2 linked regions of the Homo sapiens genome follow. The protein of the gene in region 1 binds, or shares a complex with, the protein of each later gene. Each region holds a gene or a part of one and is shown in the gene's direction. Other genes may lie near its edges.

The links.
Region 2: the proteins of CARM1 (region 1) and H3-3A are in contact, whole or in part, in a crystal structure (PDB 5DWQ), measured with the Homo sapiens proteins. Residues at the interface, in NP_954592.1 of Homo sapiens: Gln148, Tyr149, Phe152, Tyr153, Gln158, Asn161, Met162, Asp165, Glu257, Pro258, Met259, Gly260, Tyr261, Glu266, Val340, Leu412, Thr413, His414, Trp415, Tyr416, Ser447, Lys470, Pro472, Phe474; in NP_001365972.1 of Homo sapiens: Gly14, Lys15, Ala16, Pro17, Arg18, Lys19, Gln20, Leu21.

The regions. Positions count from the first base shown.
Region 1 is NC_000019.10:10,866,665-10,874,595, forward strand, and holds the start of CARM1 (histone-arginine methyltransferase CARM1), read left to right. Parts: upstream 1-4,888; 5' UTR 4,889-5,038; coding exon 5,039-5,258; intron 5,259-5,764; exon of another isoform or gene 5,765-5,813; coding exon of another isoform or gene 5,814-5,928; intron 5,929-7,931. Other genes in the region: C19orf38 (protein HIDE1 precursor), read left to right, coding at 2,554-2,703. UniProt on the Homo sapiens protein: Methylates (mono- and asymmetric dimethylation) the guanidino nitrogens of arginyl residues in several proteins involved in DNA packaging, transcription regulation, pre-mRNA splicing, and mRNA stability.
Region 2 is NC_000001.11:226,057,935-226,065,715, forward strand, and holds the start of H3-3A (histone H3.3), read left to right. Parts: upstream 1-4,781; 5' UTR 4,782-4,877; intron 4,878-6,394; 5' UTR 6,395-6,417; coding exon 6,418-6,545; intron 6,546-7,721; coding exon 7,722-7,781. UniProt on the Homo sapiens protein: Variant histone H3 which replaces conventional H3 in a wide range of nucleosomes in active genes. Constitutes the predominant form of histone H3 in non-dividing cells and is incorporated into chromatin independently of DNA synthesis.

The DNA.
Region 1 (7,931 bases):
TGGAGACGGAGTTTCGCAATTATCGTCCAGGCTGGAGTGCAGTGGTGCCATCTGCAGCCTCCACTTCTGGGGTTGAAGCGATTCTCCCACCTCAGCCTCCCAAGTAGCTGGGACTGTAGGTGCCTGATACCACACCTAGCTAATGTTTGTATTTTTAGTAGATACAGGGTTTCACCATGTTGGCCTGGCTCGTCTTGAACTCCTGACCTCAGGTGATCCACCCACCTCAACCTCCCAAAGTGTTGGGATTATAAGCATGAGCCACTGCACCCAGCCTAATTTTTGTATAATTTTTGTATATTTTTAGTAGAGACAAGGTTTCACCAAGTTGGCCAGGCTGGTCTCAGACTCCTGACCTCAAGTGATCTGCCCGCCTCGGCCTCCCAAAGTGCTGGGGTTACAGGCATGAGCCACCGTGCCCGGCCCAGAAATTTCTCATCCTCCCAAACTTGTCTCCGTGCAACACCCACTCCCCGTTGTCCCTCCCCCAGCCCCTGGCACCCACCATTCTCCTGTCTCTGTGGATTTGCCTCTTCTGGACATCTCATGGATATGAGATCACATGATATTTTTCCTTTTGTGACTGGCCTGTTTCGCTGAGCTTGATGTCCTCAAGGTTCATTCATGCCATACGTAGCCTGTGTCAGAATGTCCTTCATGGCAGGCACGGTAGCACATGCCTATAATGCCAGCACTTTGGGAGGCCAAGGCGGGCAGATCACCTGAGGTTGGGAATTCGAGACTAGCCTGACCAACACGGAGAAACCCCATCTCTACTAAAACTACAAAAAAAAAAAAAAAAAATTAGCCGGGCATGGTGGCACATGCCTGTAATACCAGCTACTCGGGAGGCTTAGGCAGGAGAATCACTTGAACCCAGGAGGCGGAGTTGCTGTGAGCTGAGATCACGCCATTGCATTCCAGCCTGGGCAACAAGAGCGAAACTCCATCTCAGAAAAAAAAAAGGAAGAACATTCTTTTTTTTTTTTTTTTTTTTTTTTTTTTTGAGACAGTGTCTCACTCTGTCGCCCAGACTGCAGTGCAGTGGTGTGATCTCGGCTCACTGCCACCTCTGCCTCCCAGCCTCCAGCGATTCTCCTGCCTCAGCTTCCCAAGTAGCTGGGATTACAGGCGCCTGCCACCATGCCCGGCTAATTTTTGTAGTTTTAGTAGAGATGGGGTTTCACCATGTTGGCCAGGCTGGTCTTGAACTCCTGACCTCAGGTGATCCGCCCGCCTCGACCTCCCAAAGTGCTGGGATTACAGGTGTGAGCCACCGTGCCCAGCCTGTTCTTCCTTTTTAAGGCTGAATCATATTGTGTTGTATGGATACACCAAGTTTTGTTGATCCATTCAATTGTTGATGGACACTTGGGTTGTTTCCACCTTTTGGCTGTTGTGCAGAACCGTGCCATGACCATGGGTATGCAAATTTCTTTTGGAGTCTCTGCTTTCACTTCTAGTTTCCTTTTGAAGCCTTATACTGCTTTGTCGTTGGCTGAAATGGTAAGGCAGCAGCTGACCTGTCTCTAGCTTTCCCCATTACCTTGCTGAGTGTCTGATATGCAACTTTGTAACACCCTTTCAGGTGGGATCGATTATTTTCTTTTTACGAACAAGGACACTGAGGCTGATAATGGGCCTAGGGTCACCCAGCTTGGGAGGGACAGGACTGTGGGTGGAACCCCCAGCCTGCTGTCAACTGAGTGGCTTTAGTTCTAGCAAATTCATCTCTCTTTAACTAGGATCAGGGTCAGGAGCCTCCAAGGCAGAGGAGGAGGTAGACTTTTGAGGAATGTTTTGCCCATGGGCAAATGGGAGGGGAGGAGGAGATAATACTATTTATTTTTTATTTATTTATTTTTTTGAGACCAAGTCTCACTTTGTTCCCCAGGCTGGAGAGGAGTGGCAGGATCTCAGCTCACTGCAACCTTCACCTCCTGGGTTCAGGTGATTCTCCTGCCTCAGCCTCCCGAGTAGCTGGGATTACAGGCGTGCACCACCACACCTAATTTTTGTATTTTTCTGAGAGGGTTTCACCATGTTGGCCAGGCTGGTCTCGAACTCCTGACCTGAGGTGATCCACCCACCTCGGTCTCCCAAAGTGCTGGGATTACAGGCGTGAGCCACTGGGCCCAACAGAGGAGATAATATGAATGGTTGTGTTCACTTAGCAAAGAAGAGCTTACGATGTGCCATTTGCTTTATCAGTTTTACTCTTTTAAGCCTCATAGCAGCCCTAGGAAGTGGTGGGTACTAGCATTCTGCCCGTTTTGCAGAAGGGGAAACTGAGGTATAGAGGGGTGAAGCCACACAACTGAGGTTACACTGCTATAAAGTGAAGGAACTGGTGTTTGAATCCATGCTCTCTGGTCCCCAGTTTAGCAGAGAGGAAGGCAGGAGAAGGGAAGACCAGGACAGGTGGGTGTGGGTGGGGGCGGGATGAGAGGAGACCTGCTGGGCTGGCAGAGTCTCAGGCTCAGAACATGGAGAAACCCTAGATCCTGAAACCCCAAATCACCCACTTCTGTGTTTCTTCTTACATGGACAAAGAAAACGATGCCAGAAGAAGACCCGGCCACCTTGGATGATCACTCAGGCACCACTGCCACCCCCAGCAACTCCAGGACCCGGAAGAGGCCCACTTCCACGTCCTCCTCGCCTGAGACCCCCGAATTCAGCACTTTCCGGGCCTGCCAGTGAGGCTGAGGACTGGGGGACCCCTCTGTCTCCAGGCATTCGGGGGCCTGAGGTCCCTCCAGCTACTTCTGGGGGGGCTCTGTCAGCCACTTTCTCAGGGAATTGGACAGAGGAAAGGAAGGGGAACCCTGGCCTTGGGATTTTCATCACAGAGGAGTGGGAGAGGGGACACAGGCATGGGCCTGGCACTATACAGACAACAGGAAGTTCCCCTCTCGACCTTCGGCTCCTCAGGACCACCAGAGAAGGAGATGTCAGGACCCCTTCTTGTCCCCCAGCTGGGCCATAAGACGTCCCAGGTCTCTGCACACCCGTGGAATTCCTCCCTTCCCCAGTGGGTTTTTGAGCATAGGGTGCCCTTGGGTGTGTTGTGTGTCTGCCTGCTGGCTTGCTTAAGTTATTAATTATAACACGGGTCAAGGTGTTCCCAGGCCTCTATGGAGTGGAATCCTTCAAGCTGGGGACCTCTGGATCCCATGGTTGGATGGCTGGGGGGTGGAGCGTGTCTGAATTCACCAAATTTGAAGCATCTCTCAAGGGCAGTCAGGGTGGTGTATGCGGAGCCTCCTGGGGGTGTGGGGAGTGCAGCAGTGCCATGCCAGGGTCTCTGCAACGGTACTTGCATTAGAGGGTTTAGGAGGTGGAATGACAGGGGCTACGGGTGAGGGACATGAAGGAGAATGAGGGCCCCTCGCAGTGGCTCACACCTATAATCCCAGCACTTTGGGAGGCCGAGGCAGGGGGTTGCTTGAGCCCAGGAGGTTGAGGCTGCAGTAAGCTATGATGGCACCACTGCACTCTAGCCTGGGCAACACAGTGAGACCCTGTCTCAAAAAACAAAAGGGGCCGGGCGCGGTGGCTCATGCCTGTAGGCCCAGCACTTTGGGATGCCGAGGCGGGCGGATCACCTGAAGTCAGGAGTTCAAGACCAGCCTGACCAACATGGTGAAACCTCGTCTCTACTAAAAATAAAAAATTAGCTGGGCGTGGTAGAGCATGCCTGTAGTCCCAGCTACTCGGGAGGCTGAGGCAGGAGAATCACTTGAACCCGGGAGGCGGAGGTTGCGGTGAGCTGAGATCGAGCCATTGCACTCCAGCCTGGGAGACAGAGCGAGACTCCGTCTCAAAGAAAAAAAAAAAAAAAAAAAAGGAATGAGGCGTAAATGAGGTCTAGGGAAGAGTTAAAGCTGGAGTGCTAGGAAGTGGCCCAAGCTCACTGGGTCGCCCAAAAGAGATGGGGCCACCCAAAATGAAGGGGGATGCAGAGAGAAGACGGGTTTGTGTGGCGGGAGAGGGGCCCTGCGCCGGGCCAGGCTGGACTCAGCATCGTTGGAGGAGGGGCTGAGAGAGGAGGGGGTCAAAGGATATCTTGTGCGAAAGGAGACAGTCAAACATTAAGGATTAAGAAGGCAATGTGGGCAGAGATGATGGGGAAGGGAGGAGGAGCGGTCGAATGTCGGGGAGGGGTCCTTTCAACCGGGCTCAGGTTGCTCCTGGAGGCCAGGGCTCATCGGAAATCGTCGGTGCGGGGGCGGTGGGGGGAAGGGTTGGGGGCGAGGCCCGGGCGCTGGCCACGCCCTTTCCCCCGCCCATTCCCCAGAGCGGGGCGGCTGACAAAGCGAGTCCGGGTGGGAGGGCGCGGGCAGGCACGGGGGCGGGGCCTCGTCGCGGCTGGGCCACGCCTCCCTGAGGGCTGCCTCACAAAGCCGGGCGGGCCCGGGGGGGTGGGGCCCAGTCTCAGGGGCGTGTCCAGGTCGGGGCAGGGAAGCCGCATCACGACGCGCGGCTGCTTGTGTGGGGCGGGGTACAGGGCGTGTCCACGCGGCCGAGCACCGCCCCCGCCGTCCCCGCACCGCCTCACTCGAAAGCAGCCGTTAATGAGGCGCCGGCCTGGGGGCGGGGCCCAGGCCTCCGAGGGGCGTGCCCGCGCGCCCGAGCACCGCCCCCGACGTACCCTCCCGCCCCGCAGTTCCCGGGCGGTGGAGCCACCTCACAAAGCGGCGACCGTTCTCGCGGGGCGGGGCGTAGCCGGTCCCGCCCCACGGGGTGCCCTCTCGTTCGCTCGCTAGCTCCCCGCGCCCAGGACGGCCGGCAGAGGGCGCTGCGCCACGGGGCCGGGCCGCGGCGACGGTGGCGGCGGCGGCGGCGAGGCGGCGCGTGGCCGGCAGGCGGCGCTGCCCGGCTCGGCCTCGGCCTGCACGGCGGCTGCGGCGGCGGTAGCGGCAGCGGCGGCGGCGGCGGCGGCGGCGGCGGCGGCGGCGGCGGCGGCGGCGGCAGCGGCGGCGGCCTGGGCCCGGGCGCAGCGGCGGCGGCGGCGGGGCCTGGAGCCGGATCTAAGATGGCAGCGGCGGCGGCGGCGGTGGGGCCGGGCGCGGGCGGCGCGGGGTCGGCGGTCCCGGGCGGCGCGGGGCCCTGCGCTACCGTGTCGGTGTTCCCCGGCGCCCGCCTCCTCACCATCGGCGACGCGAACGGCGAGATCCAGCGGCACGCGGAGCAGCAGGCGCTGCGCCTCGAGGTGCGCGCCGGCCCGGACTCGGCGGGCATCGCCCTCTACAGCCGTGAGTACGGGGCCCCGGGGCAGGCGCAGGGCCGGGGCTGCTCACGAGGCCGGCCCGGGGCGGGGGCCGGCGGGGAGGGGCCCTGAGCGCGGGGGCCTGGCGTGGGGTCCCCGGGACTGAGCCGGTGGCCTGCAGGGAGCGACCGTGGAGGGCCGGTGCCAGGGGACAGACAGAGAAAAGAGGGCGTGCGTGGTGGCCGGAGGGGCAAGGTGCCCAGAGTGAGCAAGGGAGCGCGAAATGGGGAGTGAAGGGCCTGAGATTTGGGAGGGGTGGGTGAGCAGGAAGTGGGGGGCTCTGAGTGGAAGGGGAATTTGGAGGACGCCAGGCGTGGTGGGCTTAAGCGTGGGGGAGGGAGGTCCGGGGTGCGGGAGAGGTGGGCGTCTCGGGGGCGGGCGTGGCCGCCTCTGCAGGGAGGAGGGTGGGGCGTGGGCGGCCCGGGATCCCTCTGGGGACCCCCTGGATAGCTCAGGACGGTTGGAAAGTGTTTGCTGGTCTGGGGCGCCCGCGAGTACCGAGTTCCACCGCTGTGCGAGGTGTGGCGTTCAGGACCCCCGAATGGGAAACTTCAGGATCTGGGGAGAGGGCCCATGCGGGGACGGTGGGAGCCGCAGGGTGAGCTCCTCGTGGAAACGTGGACGGGACGGGCCCCTTCCTGATGCCGGGCTTCGAAGTAAGAGCTAACAGCCTCCTCCCATCTTCTTTTGGGGGATGTGAGAAGCTGGTTACATTTTCCGAAGCTGCTTTCAAAACTGACATTTCACTGGGGGGAAAAGAAAATCACAAATGCGTTTGCCAGCACCCCCCACCCCCGCTCCCAGTCTTTGTAGTTCATTCTTCTTCTTGTTACTCCTTCTTATCTCTTCTCTTTGATTCCTTGTTCACATTTTGCTACTCTGTGTCATTTGGCTTTGTCTTTCAGGGCTTCTTGCACTGATGCCCTGGGGAACCCCTCAGGAGGCCTCTAGCTAGCTTGGGTCCTGTGTGAATTTTTTGCCACTTTGGAAACGGCCCGATTAAAGGAAAGCCCGAGGAGCAGTCCGTTCACACTGGGTTTTCCCTGCACCTCGACTTTGAAAACGTGGACTAAAGGAGTTGTGTCTGCTGTCCGAGGGTGCCGTCTCTTTTTGCTGGTGCAGAGCCTGGGTCTTCTTGGACCAGATGAGAGGGGAAGGAGGGTATTTCAGCGGGGGTTTCAGAGTTCAAGGCAGACACTCAGCTCAACAGAACCCCAGATCATAAGCAAAACCTATTCACTGGGCAAGCATTGGTAGCCAACTTTGTCCTGAACAGAACAAAGCGGGGCAGCGTTTCCAAAACTAGGGTCCCAGGGCTTATCCTCAAAGGAGTTCCAGGAGAGTTGGCTATCATTTTTAAGTAAACCTTTAAAAAATTTTTTTAGGACCAGGCGGGGTAGCTCAGCACTTTGGGAGGCTAAGCACTTTGGGAGGATCACTTGAGGTCAGGAGTTCGAGACCAGCCTGGCCAACATGGTGAAACCCCGTCTCTACTAAAAATACAAAACAGCGGGGTGTGGTGACATGTGCCTGTCCCAGCTACTCGGGAGGCAGAGGCAGGAGAATCACTTGAACCTGGGAGGCAGAGGTTGCAATGAGCTGAGATCGTGCCATTGCACTCCAGCCGGGGAGACAGAGTGAGACTCCATCTCAAAAAAAAAATTTTTTTTAGAACAATTTTAGTTTAGTTTTTTTTTTTTTTTTTTTTTTTTTTTTTTTTTGAGACAGAGTCTTGCTCGGTCCCCCAGGCTGAAGTGCAGTGGCTCAATCTCGGCTCACTGCAAGCTCTGCCACCTGGGTTCACGCCATTCTCCTGCCTCAGCCTCCCGAGTAGCTGGGACTACAGGCGCCTGCCGCCATGCCCGGCTAATTTTTTGTGTTTTTAGTAGAGACGGGGTTTCACCATGTTAGCCAGGATGGTCTTGATCTCCTGACCTCGTGATCCACCCGCCTTGGCCTCCCAAAGTGCTGGGATTACAGGCATGAGCCACCCCGCCCGGCCAGAACAATTTTAGTCTTATAGATGTATTGGCAACATAGTGAGATGTTCCTACCATCTTATTCCTGGAGTAACATTTTGTGTTTGTATTTGTGTTTTTGTTTTTGTTTTGTTGATACTCTTGAAAGTATTACTTGTTATTAAGACAGCACTTCTCTTTGAGAGGTAATTGGTAACTGAAACATTTTTTATTATTAGAGACAAGGTTTCACTATGTCACTGTGTTGCCCAGGCTGGTCTCCAACTTCTGAGCTCAAGTGATCTTCCTGCCTCCCAGAATGCTGGGATTACAGGTGTGAGCCACCCCACCTGACCGGAAACATTCATAAAAAGGAGAAAGTCCACATTCCTCAGAGAGCCTCAGTCCCAGATTCCCAGATGATATATCCTTAGGGTTCTGAAATAATTTTTTTTTACACTTTTTTGTTTTTTTTCTTTCTTTTTTATTTTTTTTATTTTTATTTTTTATTTTTTCAGACAGGGCCTCACTCTGTTGCTCAGACTGGAGTGCAGTGGTACAGTCTCAGTCTCAGCTCACTGCAGCCTTCCATGGCTAAAGTGATCCTCATACCTCAGCCTCCCTAGTAGCTGGGACCACAGGCATGTGCCACACCCAGCTAATCTTTCATATTTTTTGTAGAGAAAGGGTTTTCACTGTGT
Region 2 (7,781 bases), on another chromosome or scaffold:
CTCGGGAGGTAGAGGTTGCAGTGAGCCGAGATCGAGCCACTGCACTCCAGCCTGGGCAACAAGAGCAAAACTCTTGTCTCAAAAAAAAAAAAAATAAACAAACAAACAAATAAAAAAGTGCTGGGATTACAGGCTTGAGCTACCATGCCAAGCCCAAATTTAAAAATCAAGTTCCATATGAGTGGCTCCAAATACCCTCCACTAATCCTCGGTGCAACTTACAAATATGATCATTTTCTTCTTTTTTTTTTTGACATGGAGTTTCGCTCTTGTTGCCCAGGCTGGAGTGCAGTGGTGTGATCTCAGCTCACTGCAACCTCCACCTCCCGGGTTCAAGTGATTCTCCTGCCTCAGGCCTCCCAAGTAGCTGGGATTACAAGTGCCCACGACCATGCCTGGCTAATTTTTTATATTTTTAGTAGAGACGGGGTTTCATTATATTGGCCAGGTTGGTCTCGAACTCCTGACCTCAGGTGATTCACCAACCTCGGCCTCCCAAAGTGCAGGGATTAGAGGTGTGAGCCACTGCACCTGGCCAAATATGATCATTTTCTAAGAAGAAAATGACATGGGAAAGGTTAGAAAGTTTGCCTTAGAAGATGGTGAGACAGTCCTATCAAAAGCTGGTGGAAGAGAATTCAAGCTTCAGAAAGAACAGATGCAATGATCCTAAGGCAGAGGAGGACTTGATGGACCAGGGGTGGCTAGTCTGCAGCACAGTGCGGAGGGGAAAGAGGGGTAATGCCAGGGCCCACACATGTGGAATTTAACCAAGAGCAGTGGGAGGCCACTGAATGGATTAAGCAAGAATGCAACCTAATCTGATTTATATTCTATAATCTAATCTGTGTCTGCTTGGTAGCAAATAAAATACAGAGGTGCAGGAGTGGAAAGAGAAAGGTCATACAGAAAGTTACTGTTGAAGGGCAGGTAAGAGATGAGAAGAGGAGTAGGTCATTCTGATAAGCATTTCAGAGCAAGACCAATAGACTGGCTATCGGGGTGAAAGAAAAAGAGGCTCAAGGAGGCTGTCTGTACTTTTTGGTTTGAGTTGAGTAAATGGTAGTGCTATTTACTGGACAAGACTGAGGGAAAGGACAGTTTTAGACAGTGTGGATCCAAAGCCTCAGGATAAATGATCCATATTTTTCTTTTGTTTGAGACGGAGTCTTGCTCTGTCGCCCAGACTGGAGTGCAGTGGCGCAGTCTCTGCTCACTGCAACCTCCGCCTCCTGGGGTTCAAGCAATTCTCCTACCTCAGCCTCCCAAGTAGCTGGGACTACAGGCGTGAGCCACCACGCCTGGCTAATTTTTGTATTTTTAGTAGAGATAGGGTTTCGCCATGTTGGCCAAGGTGGTCTCCAACTCCTGACCTCAAGTGATCAGCCCACCTCAGCCTCCCAAAGTGCTGGGATTACAAGTGTGAGCCACCACGCCTGGCCAATCCATATTTTTCAACAAAGTACAAATACAGAGAAAGAATCTGTAGATTATAAGAGATTTAAGGGGCACATCAATCATCTATTTGACTCCTATGATACATACTAAATTATCTACAGATGAAATAATGCAGGCTGGGATTTGCTTCAAAATAATTCAAATCGGTGAGGTAGAAGTGAGTAGAGTATAGAGGGAACCCAATATTGGTCATGAGTCAGTAATTTCTAAAGATGGGTACAAGGGGTTCATTGTTTTATTCTATTTTTCTACATGATAATTTCCATGTAACTGGATGAGATCACCTAATAAAAAGGTACAGCAAATGATCAGGGACAGGAGAAAAAACAGACAAGACCACCATTACCTCAGAGGTTATATTCTTTGGGGAGGAACTGGACAATAAGCAAGTGAACAAATGATAGATGTAAATCAATGTGATAAAAAGGTGATGTGAAATCAATGTGATAAAGTGTGCATGGAGATAGCATTACAGTGACCAGAAGCATCTCCATGAGGCAGTAATCTTTGCAGTTGATTGACAGGAGCCAAGCAGATATGAATAGCGTTGCTTTTAAAATCCTTTCCATTCTACTTTTCTACTTATAAACAAATCTAAATTCATGGCCATAAGTACTCTATTCTAAGGAAAATATTTTAACTTAAAACCTTTTGCTCCCATCCTCCCCATTTCTTTTTTAACTGCAAATGTTGAGGCCATTATTAGCCCAAGAATTCTATTTTTTTTTTTTTCTGAGATGGAGTCTTACTGTTGCCCAGGCTGAAGTGCAGTGGCAAAATTTCGGCTCACTGCAACCTCCACCTCCCAAATTCAAGCAATCCTCCCACTTCAGCCTCCCAAGTAGCTAGGATTACAGACGTGTGCCACCATGACGGCTAATTTTTATTTTTAGTAGAGACAGGGTTTCTCCAGGTTGGCCAGGTTGGTCTCAAACTCCTGATCTCAAGTGATCCACCCACCTCGGCCTCCCAAAGCGCTGGGATTACAGATGTGAGCCATTGTGCTGGGCCTGAGTTCTAGTAAAGCCAATTCAGGACTGACCCGTAGGGCCCTGTGAGAATCCCTTCTTGCTCTGGCACCTCTCCTTCCCCATTATCTAGACTCTACAGTTCACCTCTCTCATTAGCTATAGTTTTTGCCAATCTTGGGGCTCCAAAGTCCCTCTTTCTTTACCCCCTCCTGGTGCTACTTCCCTGTGCAAAGCAGTGCTTCCAGAGATCATAAGCCCCATGAGGGCAGGAACACTGCTTGTGTTATTCACTGCTGCATTCCCAGCACCCCTGAATTGTGCTGAGCAGAGTTGGCACTCAATAAATATTCATTCAGTGAGAAAACTTCCTGAAGCCACTAGGAGGGTAACCAGTCACCTCTCCAGGTGCTTAAATACTTGAACCTACTAGAAAGAATTTGTGGCCTAACTTCATAGAGATAAATATTATTATTCCCATTTCACAAATGGACAGACAGCTGAGTTAGTTCAAATCATCTAAGATCATAATTACTCTACCTAAAATGGTCTGACCCTTGGTTAGAAATATTTTTTAAAGCCAAGAAGTAGAAGCTATTGAAAAATCCAGCATACAAAGAAAACATTACCCATGTCATTTAACATTTCTTGAAGATATGATGCATTTAACTAATGCAGAACAGCCTTCCTGGATAAATCCAACAATAAATATTTCGGTTTCCTGAAAACAAAACAAAAAACAAGCAAAATAACTCATCTTGGCTTGAATTATAGGAAATTCTTTGCTGGCAGCTCGGTCCAAGCTGATTGCATATGTGCTTTTAGGATAGGATTAGAGATTGCATGTGTTCTGCACAGCAACCATGGACACTTAACATTCATGAAATAATAATGAAACGGGAGGCCTGGATTTTTGTCTGTTTGTTTCTCCTAGGTCTCTTCCTCACTTAAGTGACCTTGGACAAATCCATTTCTTCCCTCGTATCTGATTTCCATGTATCTGTTTCGGGATAATGTTTATCACTAAGCCGCTTTGTGAGATCTTCAGATTACAAATAATTACTGCCCTTCATTTATGAAATTTTCCTCCTTCACTACCCTACGGGATATTTGCATGACCCTTCCATTGAAAACCTTTACACACAGTTGTGAAGCGTCAATACCATCTAGGGACGGTTCAGAGGTTCCAAAGCCAATCAACTGACAAGTCGTGAGGATAACTTGGGCCATGAAAAGTCCGTTTCCTATGCTACTGAGAATTGGAAAACAGGTATATGTACTAATTCCCAAACCACGTTTGCCTTCTTTCTGCCGTTTTCAGCCTCTTCTAAACTATGCAGAAGCTGCGGACATTTGACTATCTATATTCGGCAATTCCTTTCCAAAGCAATCCTACCGAAAACAGATCACACGGCCCCCACGGGCGGGCAGGACAAGCCACCAGGCCCTGGTGCAGGAGCTGCGCGCTCCACACATTGTTTAGAGGCCGACGCGACACAGCCATCTTGCGTCGGGGGCCCGGGCCCGGGAGGAGAGCGAGCCCCGTCCCCTGATCCCGGAGGCCAACACCGGCGAGGGGCTGCCCTGCACGCAGGCGGCCGGCCCAGGAGTCTTAGCGGATCAAGTTGTCTACGGCGGACTCGGGCCGGTCCCGCAGGACCCGGCCGCACTTGGCCGAGCGCGCAGGCGGGAAGGAGGCCGTCGGTCCGCCCCTCCCGCTGCCGCAGCGGCCAGGTCCGACAGCGGGCGCGGGACGCTGGATTCCTATTTGCCAGCTTCCTGCTGGGGAGCGTTTTCCAATGGGGCGCGGCGACCCGGCCGACCGCGTCCTCCTCCCCCACTGCCGCCCGGGTCTCCTCGGGGGCGCGCGCCGGGGCCCGCGCGGGGGCAGCCCCTCCCTCCCCTCCCCGCCGCGGCCCGAGACGCCCGCAGGCCGGGCGTTCACCCGCCGCGCCTCCGCCCGCCTTCCCCTCCCCCCACTTCCCTCCGGGCGCCCCAAACCCGGGCTTCGGGGGTTCGACGCCGTGCGCACACGGAGCGGGATGGGAGTGCAGGGCCGGGGGCGGGGGCTGGCCGGGTGCGGGCGGCAGTCTCGGCGGGAGCCGGCGGCCCCTCAGCGTGTCTTTTGTGTTTGTACACACACGGCGCGAGGCGGCCTGGAGGAGGGAGCGGGCGGCGCGCGGGGGAGGGGCGAGCGCGCGCCAGCGAACGGGCGCGCGGGGGGAAGGGCGGGGGCGGGGCGCGAGAGGAGCTATGGGGGCGGGGCCGAGCCTTCCCTCCATTGTGTGTGATTGGCTGGCGCGCGGCGCGGGGGCGGGGCGGCGTGTGTTGGGGGATAGCCTCGGTGTCAGCCATCTTTCAATTGTGTTCGCAGCCGCCGCCGCGCCGCCGTCGCTCTCCAACGCCAGCGCCGCCTCTCGCTCGCCGAGCTCCAGCCGAAGGAGAAGGGGGGTAAGTTTCCCCGTCTGCCCGCTTCCCCGGAACCGAGCCCCGCTTGCCGTCAGCCCCGAGCCGGGCCCTGGCGGTGCCGGGAGGGGACCCATAGCCCCTCCGGCTTAGCCCACAAACTTTTTGGCCCAGAAATGGAGGTGAGGAGCGAGTTTCCCTGTTCCCTCTGGCGGCGGCGGCTCCCCCGTCTCTCGCCGCCTCAGCCCAACAGCAGCAACCGCCGCGGCGCCGAGCCTGCTCTCCCTCCTCCTCCCCGCGCCCCTGGCTCCTCTTTCTTCGGTGAAATCCCGCCCGCCGCCCCTTCCCCGGACCCCAAACCTTCACCATGACCCGCGCGGGCCTCTTAACTACCGCCCCCGGGCCCCAGCCCCCAGTTTTCGAGCGGGAAAGGGGTGGAAATCGCCGCCGCTTCGCACCCTGGGGTAACTCGCTTTTTGCTGCCTCCCCACAGTTGTTGCTAAGCTTCACCATCTTGTCTCTCTTCTCTGGTCACCGACCATATTTTTTCCCCCGTTTCTCTCTTCCCCATTTCAAAAAAGCAAGAATTTTTAAAAGAGGGACGTTTTTTTCCCTTTTTTGGAGAGGCGGAAACTTGATGCATTTGAAATGCAAAAAAAACTTTTGCATTTTGGAGGGCGGCACGTGGCAGGGGATAGGGGTATTTTCGAGCGATTTGGTGTTTTGTCTCTTTGGAACGGAATCGGATACGTTTTGCGATTGTTTCCATTTTGTTCTGGTCGGGGAGCCGAGTTGGTTCCTGCTCGAGGCGCTGGGAGCGAGGCGGGCAGGTTGGGGGACCCTGTGCCGAGGGACCCGAAGGAGGCAAAACCAAAAGTTTATGTGGTGCTTGGGGTGGACCGGTCGGCGGATGTCGTGCGTTAATTAAAGCCTGGGTGCGGGGCACTTTTTATTTCACTGCGAAGCCTGTGAGGACTGGACGCGAGGACGGGGCTTTGTAGAATGCTCGCTGGTGGTAGCTGTTGTTCCTCTCTTGTTTTTTCGAGACGCCTTTTTGTCAACATAACTGTAAAGATGCAAAACCAAGAATATTTTCAGATATTTACAGCAATCCATCAACAGTCAGACGAAGGGGGGGCAGCCAAAGTGGGGGGGAGTAAGACCTTTTTTTTGCTGTAATTTGACTCGACCTTCCAGTGGTTTGTGCCTTTTTTCTTTTGACTTGTTTGTGGATGGAATGTTTACAGACATTTCTAATTACTGCTTTAATTAAATAAATTGGATCAAAGGCCGTTCGAGGTATTTTTGTTTTGCCGTTTGTCGCTCAGAATTGGCATTTTGAGAGGTGATTGATACTGCTAACAATTTTCTAGTACTCTAGTTTGTTTCAAGAAGAGATTTTGGGTAGACGTAATCTTCACCCTTTCAAATTATATAACAATACGAACATTATTTTTTATACTGATCATAATTTCCAGATTTGGGGAGGGGGTGATCGTGGCAGGAAAAGTTGTATGTTTGGTAGTTGCATATGGTGATTTTTGATTTTTCAATGCTGGTAGGTAAGTAAGGAGGTCTCTGTACCATGGCTCGTACAAAGCAGACTGCCCGCAAATCGACCGGTGGTAAAGCACCCAGGAAGCAACTGGCTACAAAAGCCGCTCGCAAGAGTGCGCCCTCTACTGGAGGGGTGAAGAAACCTCATCGTTACAGGTATTAAAAAACAGGAAAAAAATGGGACAAAGTCTCTCTTGTATGTATCCACATAATTTAACAAAAAGATGGATAACAGGAAAACTTTTTGCTTTAGAGAAACTTTTTTTTTTCATTTGAACACTTAACTACTGCTTAAATAAATGTACTGTATGATCATTTATATATAAAGTTAAGTATTAGGTTTTATTGAAAACGTTTAACTTTGAAGCCATAATCTTACCTGGAGGTCTAAGGAGACCTCGTATATCACTGATAATGTTAATGGGATATATTGACATTTTAGTTAACTATTAGTAATTCTTTAAAAATAGTTAAGTGTTGCTTTCTTGAATACACTTTTGAGGTTATCTTTCCTAGTTTTTGGCAAAATAATAATATAATCGAGATTGGGTGTTTTATAAAGTTCCTACCCCCTCATTTACTTGATTAGCTTATTTCCTTCTGTATTAGCTCTTTTGATTGTGAACTACCTGAGCCACTGTGTTGTTAAGGGCATCTGCCATTAGAGGGCAGAAGTTGCCTAGACTTAGCCTCCGCAAATATTACGATTAACCTAAAATAAAAGCTCATACAGTGGAAGAAATAAGTCAGAATGAGAGGTAAATTTCTTGCTGACAATTACTTAGTAAAAAAAACTTTTCCACGTGGAAGGAACACTGCACAATCGGGTGTATTCAAATTTAATAGTTGATGAGGGGTGAACTGTAGTCAGGGTAGAGGTATTCTGGGAAATAGAACTTGAATGCCACAAGCAGATTTTTAAATGAAGTTCATTGGGTTGTGTTGGTCATCTTTAAGGGCTCTTAAGATAATAGAGGGTGTAGGGAAGGAGAGTGGTGCTAAATTGAGGGGAGCCAACTTCTTCATTAGCCTGACAGCTAATACCTTCCCAAGGTTTATATACATGAATAACTTTTTAAAATGAAAATAAATAGGGCTTTGATGAATTTCTTGCTAAGAATGCATTTTAATTTCATGCTTTTTGCTTTAAAGGTATTGTTACTAGATTTGAATGTTCACATCTTAAGTTGATCAGTGAAATTTGATACTGAAGCTGAAGAATTGTTGGGTGGCTTATTTTTTGAAAGATTACTGCATTTCTTTGAAGCTGCCCACTTACCTTTTTGTGCTAGTTATGTTTTTGGTAACAGTTTCTTTATTAATTTTTTAAAGGCCTGGTACTGTGGCGCTCCGTGAAATTAGACGTTATCAGAAGTCCACTGAACTTCTGAT